Regions from separate parts of the Homo sapiens genome. Here region 1 is reported to be linked to region 2. The links are microRNA targets in miRTarBase. Many come from high-throughput screens and were not tested one by one. Region 2 holds a microRNA gene; the other region holds the end of a gene's coding sequence.

Region 1 (3,000 bases), not on the chromosome of region 2:
CTGGCTAACACAGTGAAACCCCGTCTCTACTAAAAATACAAAAAAATTAGCTGGGCCTAGTGGCGGGCGCCTGTAGTCCCAGCTACTCGGGAGACTGAGGCAGGAGAATGGCATGAACCTGGGAGGCGGAGCTTGTAGTGAGCCGAGATTGTGCCACTGCACTCCAGCCTGGGCAACAGAGCAAGACTCTGTCTCAAAAAAATAAATAAATAATAAATAATGGGGTCAGCGAACTTGTTCCTATTTGATAAGGCAAACCTCTCTGAGGAGGTGATGTTTCAGCTGAGGTGTGAGGATAGAGAAATCATTCTTGCAAAGAAGAGTGTTCCGGGCAGAGAAGACAGCATGGGTGAAGGCCAGAGGCAGGAGAGAGCTTGACATATTTGAGGAATAGGAGCAGAAGGGATAGTGTGCTTAGATGTAACAAGTGACATAGAAGGAGAAACAATTTGAGATCAGAGGGAGAGGCAGGGACCAGATTCTAGAGGGATTCATGGAGGGCATCAGGATATAGTTGCAGAGGTTGGGTACTGCACAAAAGGCTCCCAGTTACCAAACTGTTGGGCCTATGTGGCTGCTGTCAGCCTGGAGAAAGGGAAGCTGTGTTGTTATTTGTCTCCCCGGAGGGACGTGTTATGGATAGGCCATGGTAAAGAGTTTGGACCTTATTCTTTTATTCCAGGGAAAGGCATAATGGGTTTAAGCAGAGGAGGGTTGTGATCCAGTTTCCTTTTTGAAAAGATCACGCTGACTGCTGTGTGCAGAAGGGATGCTCAAGGAGCAAAAGCAGAAACAGAAATGGGACCCACTCAAAAAGCAAGAACCATGGTGCAGGACAGGTAGGGAGGGTCTGCTCAGACCTCTCTCAAAGCCACCCTTTGCATGCTGGTTACTCCCCGGGAGGAGCACTGGAGCAGGGGCCTCAAGTCCCAGGCCCAGCTCTGACACTAGCTTGCTGTATGACCCGACAGGTCACTTCAAAGAGGTCGTGACTACCACTTGGAGATGCTTGAGCACACACCATGTTGGCACACACTGTATTGAGGGTCTACCATGTGCTAGCATCAGGCAAGAAAAAAGCAGTGAAGACAGACAAGGCTCCTGAGCCCTGTGCAAGAAGCGTGCATCCTCCCGGGTGGGGCGGGCAGGCAAAGATAAACCCATAAAAGTCAAGACAGTCTCGGATGGCGATGCACAGTCTGATGGGAATAAAACAGGGCTGTCACAGGGGAGGGCATGACTGTATTTACCACTGGGTGGGAAGGTCTTCGGGAGGCAGGGCTGAGGACTGAAGGAGCCACCTGTGGGAGGGGTAAGAGCACAGACCCTGATAGAAGGGGTCTGAAGTGTGCCAGGTACAGCCAGCAGCGCAGCCAGAGCGGGGAGTAAGAAGCAGAGGCCGGCAGGGGTCAGACTCTCATCCTGGGAGGCCGGGCGCGGTGGCTCACGCATGTAATCTCAGCATTTTGGGAGGCCAAGGCAGGCAGATCACCTGAGGTCAGGAGTTCGAGACCAGCCTGGCCAACATGGTGAAACCCCGTCTCTACTAAAAATACAACAATTAGCTGGGTGTGGTGGCGCCTGCCTGTAACCTCAGCTACTCGGGAGGCTGAGGCGGGAGAATCACTTGAATCCAGGAGACAGAGGTTACAATGAACTGAGATCGGGCCACTGCACTCCAGCCTGGGCAACAGAGGGAGACTCCATCTCAAAAAAGAAAAATCTCATCCTGGGGTGGGAAACCGCTGAAGACTGCTAGAACAACAGAGTGAGCCGTGATTGGGCCCCTCACAGGCCAGGTGGTAATGCCTCAGGTCCCTACAGATCTGGCTTGTGCCCCTCAAGGGAGACCTCAGAAGCTGGGAAGAAAGGCATGCCAAGCACACGTATTTCTACAGGGATGGCTAAGGACTTGAGGCAAGCCTTGGTCACCACCTGCTTGGGTATCTGGGGAGGGAGGCTCAAGTTGTGAAGAAGCGTGGGGCCTCCAGCTCAGGCCCATACATGTAAGTTTAAATCTCCCAGCCTATTTCCCTGGCTTCAGGCTGCAAGAAAACAAGATGTGTGTGCGTTGGGCGGGGGTTGGGATGGTGGAGTCAGAGCTTGCCCCAGCCCAATCCTCCCCCTCAGGCAGTCACCACACTGACACAGATGCAAAAAACCATCCATTTATACAGTTTGTGGTTCAGAAGCAACAATATGCACAACGGTGGAACAGTCTGTGCTGTCCCCACCCCACCTGAACTCGCCAGTTCCTGTCTCCCAAGGGGCACAGAACACAGGCCCCCTGCCTGGCAGGACCCGACTTAGTTACAGGCCCCTGGGAGGGGCGAAGCCCTTAGGGGTCGAGGCCAGGAGGGAGGAGGACCAGCACCTGATGCCCCTGGGGGCCCGCTGGGTCATGGAACTGTGTGTGTGGAGGGTGGGGGGTCAGCCCACCACGGGCCATTTCTCCCCAAGGCTAAGGGCGGGGGAGCAAGTAAAGCTGAGGAGAGGGCTTCATGGGACAGGGTTCCCATCCCCTGCTGGGAGGGTGTTCCTGGATACCCCACAAGGCACTACAGATGCAGACTGTAGGCGAGCACCCCCATCTTTGGCCCCCGATTGCCTGGCTCTCCCCCTGCCCCAGCTCCCACTGTGGTTTGGCGGGGGAGAAGAGAAGGGGCTGGGCCCCCCACTCCCTCAGCAGACACCAGCCAGGAACCGACCCGGCGGGCCGAGGCTAGGAAGGACCCTCTCCCGCTGCTCTGGGCTCCTGGGGTCCTCTTGGCTCGGCCTCCCCCTCTTTTAGCGCTGGCTGTTGCGAATAAATAAATAAATACCTCCCTGCCCGCCCCCGCCCCTACAGCTGGCTCTCCTCCTCCTCCAGGGAGCGGTTGAGTCCGGGGATGAACTTGAGCAGCCGCCGGCGGAAGCTGCGGTACTTGGTTTTGCGCAGGCCGGGGCCGCATAGGGCCTGCTCGCGAGCCTCAGTCCAGAGCGCGCCCGGCGCGCCCCCGC
Region 2 (4,460 bases):
ACAGATGGCGGCAGGCAAAGAGAGAGCTTGTGCAGGGAAACTCCCCCTTATAAAACCATCAGATCTTGTGAGACTTATTCGCTATCACGAGAACAGCATGGGAAAGGCCTGCCCCCATGATTCAATTACCTCCCACCAAGTCCCTCCCACAACACGTGGGAATTCAAGATGAGATCTGGGTGGGGACATAGCCAAATCATATCAATATATTTCTCTCTTAGTGTTGGCTGGTAGAAAGTAGAGGTCCAAGTTTAGAAATAAGTATTCTAAACATTTCTGGCAAATGCGCTAAACATCACAGCATATGCAGTTTGTATTTACATGACCCCAAATTCATCCCCACTCTCCCTCCACCCTTTATTATGGGAATTCCTTAACATAACTCTTATTATCATTATAATATCCTATATTCATAGGAATATTCCTCTAGTATGTAACTTGAATACTATCTCAAATAATTCTTGAAATTAATAAGCAAATGTAAATAAAAGGATAGCTTGGGGGACAACTTTTGCAGTAAATGACACGACAAAAGTGTAGACAAAAGTTATGCGAACCCAGACGAAGGCATGGTTTTCTCTCCTTGGTCTCGGCAGGGAGCATGCATGGCTTCCTCAAGGAGATAACATTTGGATGTGGTCTCAGAGGGGTGGAAACTCCTTCCCAGCAGAAGGGAAAGCGTGTGCCTCAACTCACATAAGGAAGAAGCAAATTTAGCAGGGAATGAGATGGGAGGCAGGTAGCTGGGCAGGATGGCAAGGCTGGAAAGACAAACAGGAATTAGACTGCCAAGGGTCATGGATTTATTCACTGAGTCACAGTGAACCAAGAAAGGTTTTGAGTAGGAAAGAGAAAAGAAATGATCAGGTCTGGATGCAATGACAGCATAAAAATGACTGACAAGAGTTGGAAAAATGGCACTGAAGGGAAAAAAGACTAGGTAGAGGGTGACATCAGCTGTCCAAGTCAGACTCAAAAGGATTTGAGCTAGGACAAGTGGTGGATAGAGAGTAAAAAGAAATGAGCTGGGCGCAGTGGCTCACATCTGTAATCCCAACACTTTGGGAGGCCGAGGTGGGCAGATCACCTGAGGTCAGGAGTTCGAGACCAGTATGGCCAACATGGTGAAACCCCGTCTCTACTAAACATACAAAAATTACCCAGGCGTAATGGTGCTTGCCTGTAATGCAGCTACTTGGGAGGCTGAGCCATAAGAAATCCGTTGAACCCAAAAGGCAGAGGTTGCAGTGAGCTGAGATCGTGCCACTGCACTCCAGCCTGGGCAACAGAGCTTGACTCTGTTTCAAAAAAAAAAAAAAAAACTAAAGAGAAATGAAAGGCACTTCCAAAGCAGAGCCCAGAGCAGTTGCTGGCTTGTCTTCCCCAATACCTGTCACATCCCTTTTCTCATTGCATCCATGTTTATTTATCTCGTGCAAAGTGCCTGAAGCTGCAAGGTTCTGGGGATACAGAGGGGCTCTTGATCTAGCCAGGGGGACAGACAATTCCAGAGGAGCCTAACAAAGAGAGGATGCTGAAGATGTAAGTCCTAAATCAAATGGAGGGAGGGCAGTGAATTTGGTATAGAATGTTCGAAAAATCCTATTCATTCCCTCCCTACTCCTGAGAAACACATAGTGATCCTGTGACATCAGCCCCAATGCCTCTTTTGAAAGCAGTTCTATAAAAGGCAATGCCAAGGAATGAGAATGGAAACCGAACAGTCTGGGTGTGGGATGACCCTTGGCAACACGGGTGAGATCACACCCTGCCTTGGTCCCGGCACTGGCAGCCAGGATCTGCTCCCACCGAGCTGCAATCCAATGCTTCTTTCTTCCTCTGCAAATATCCTTCAAGGCTTGACAAATGTGAGTCACCACGACAAGAATAGTGCCATTCCTAAATAGCAGGTCTTTATATACTTTGTTTCCTTGCTCCTATTTGCTACTTTGTCACTAAGCTTTCCAGACAACTGCCCCCATGCAACAAACTCCCCTCTGACCCGGAGCCTTCAGACTTCCCAGAATTGGATGAAATGGAAAACACACAAGACCCCTGAATCAGGCTCAATGAGGCACGTCCCACCTACCCACCTGCTGTGCCCCTTTTCTCCCAAAGGTCTCAGTGTGGCCTCTTTCTAATAACCAGAAACTGTGATCTAAGCATCCCAATGAAGTAACCTTTACAATCTCCCAGAGCCAGAGAAATGCACAAATGAAAAGAAAAAAAAAATGCTTCACTCATAAGCATTGTTCTATTCTAAAAATAGTGCTCTAACCAATACTCACCAACCACTTGGACTTCAGATTTAACTTCTCATTTTCTGGTTCCTTCTAATGAGTATGCTTAACTTGGTAGAAGGAACCAGAAAATGAGAAGTTGAGTAGGAACTCTACTGCTACTCCAGAGACAGGTCTTAACGGAGCACAGAGTGGGTGCAACCAAGGAAGACTTCCTAGAGGTGGGGCTATGAAGACCAGGAAGTCTTCCTCGATTGCATCCACTCTCTGCTCTCTTAAGACCTGTCTCTATCATAGCACTTGATAAGCTGTATTATAATTTTCCGTTTAGATGCCCGTCTCCTCCAACAGATTGTGAGTTTCCTCTCTCATGGCAGAAAGTGGGTCTTATTGCCTCTGTAAGCCAGCACCTAGTGTAATAACATATACCCAGCAGGGTAAAACGTATACTCAAAAATGTGACATAAACCACAATGAGATACCACCTCACACCCATTAAAATGGCTACTGTCAAGAAAACAAAATAACAAGTGTTGGCGAGGATGTGGAGAAAGTGGTACCTTGTGCACGGCTGATGGGAATGCAAAATGCTGCAACCCCTATGGAAAACAGTATGGCGGTTCTGCAAAAAGTTAAACATAGAATTACCACAGGATCCAGGAATTTTACTTCTGGGCATAAACCCCAAAGAAATGAAAGCAGGGACCAGGGGTGGTGGCTCACGCTTGTCATCCCAGCACTTTGGGAGGCCAAGGTGGGCAGATCACTTGAGGTCAGGAGTTCAAGACCAGCCTGCCCAACATAGTGAAACCCCATCTCCACTAAAAATACAAAAATTAGCCAGGTGTGGTGGTGGGCACCTGTAATCCCAGGTACTCGGGAGGCTGAGGCAGGAGAATGGCATGAACCCAGGAGGCAGAGGCTGCAGTGAGCTGAGACTGTGCCACTGCACTCCAGCCTGGGCAACAGAGCGAGACTCTGTCTCAAAAAACAAAACAAAACAAAACAGAAATGAAAACAGGGACTTGAACAGATATTTGCACACTCATGCTCATAGTAGCACTATTTGCAATAGTCAGTAGGTAGAAGCAACCCAAGTACCCATCAACAGATGAATAAACAAAAGAGGATACATTAAGTTGGTGCAAAAGTAATTTCTGTTTTTTGCCATTACTTTCAATGGCAAAAACAGCAATTATTTTTGCACCAGCCTAAGATGTAAACATACAATGGATTATTATTCAGCCTTCAAAAGGAAGGAAATCCTAACACATGCTACAACTTGAATGAACTTTGAGGACGATATTCTAAGTGAAATAAACCAGTCACAAAAGGACAATTACTGTATGATTTCACTTAAATGAGGTATGTAGAGTAGTCAAATTCTAGAGACAGAGAAAGAAGAATAGTGGGGGGCGTTGACAGCAGGTAGGGGGAGTTATTGTTTAATGGGTACAGAGCTTCAGATCTGCATGATGAAAACAGTTCTGTTGCCCAAAAATGTGTATATACTTAACGCTACTGATATATGCACATATAAATTGTTAAGATGGTAAATTTCATGTTATGTATGTTTTACCAAAATTAGAATTTATTTTATTTTATTTTGAGACAAATCTCACTCTGTCACCCATGCTGGAGTGCAATGATGCGATCTTGGCTCACTGCTATTTCTGCCGCCTAGGTTCAAGTGATTCTCCTGCCTCAGCCTCCCAAGTAGCTGGGATTACAGCCACGCACCACCACACCCGCCTAATTTTAGTATTTTTAAGTAAAGATGGAGTTTAGCCATGTTGGCCAGGCTGGTCTCGAGCCCCTGACCTCAAGTGATCCGCCTGCCTCAGCCTCCCAAAGTGCTGGGATTACAGGCGTGGGCCACCATGCCCGGCCTAATTAGAAATTTTTTAATTGTAAATCAGGACACTCTCTTGCTTAAAGCTTCCAGTGGCTTTCCACGGTACCTGGATTTTTTTTCTTTTTTTAAGTGGCAGAATGAATTGGATGATGTCAGAGGAAGAGTCTTCTAAGGCCAGTCCGTGGAGTTAGTAATTATCTCTCTTCGAATCCAAAAGGTTCATTGAGATATGGAAACTTCTCTGGCTCTGGGTGACATCAGGTCGCCAACCTAGTAAGTCCTTTACTGCTGACCCCGCACTGGACTGAGATGACAACTTCCTGGAGGGGCCCTCCCCCGTCCCCTCACCGTTGTCATAACACCCA

What was found. The annotated mature microRNA hsa-miR-3914 reads AAGGAACCAGAAAAUGAGAAGU and lies in region 2 at 2,359-2,380, shown strand. An mRNA with a match to its seed (bases 2 to 7 or 8) in the 3' UTR can be bound and repressed. Matches are read on the target gene's strand: a 7mer-m8 pairs with bases 2 to 8, a 7mer-A1 pairs with bases 2 to 7 and ends in A, and an 8mer does both.
Region 1: the mRNA of TAMALIN is a reported target of hsa-miR-3914. Seed matches in the 3' UTR shown: 7mer-m8 at 2,699-2,705.

The regions. Positions count from the first base shown.
Region 1 is chr12:52,015,042-52,018,041 of GRCh38, reverse strand. TAMALIN (trafficking regulator and scaffold protein tamalin) reads right to left here. Exons shown (of 8, transcript NM_181711.4): 8 at 2,153-3,000. The coding sequence ends at 2,843. It overlaps LOC124902934 (a long non-coding RNA gene), which reads right to left and starts at 1,499. Exons shown (of 2, transcript XR_007063311.1): 1 at 1,251-1,499.
Region 2 is chr7:71,305,607-71,310,066 of GRCh38, reverse strand. MIR3914-1 (microRNA 3914-1) reads left to right here and starts at 2,297; the gene lies at 2,297-2,395. The region is part of intron 1 of GALNT17 (polypeptide N-acetylgalactosaminyltransferase 17); the gene reads right to left. MIR3914-2 (microRNA 3914-2) reads right to left here and starts at 2,393; the gene lies at 2,299-2,393.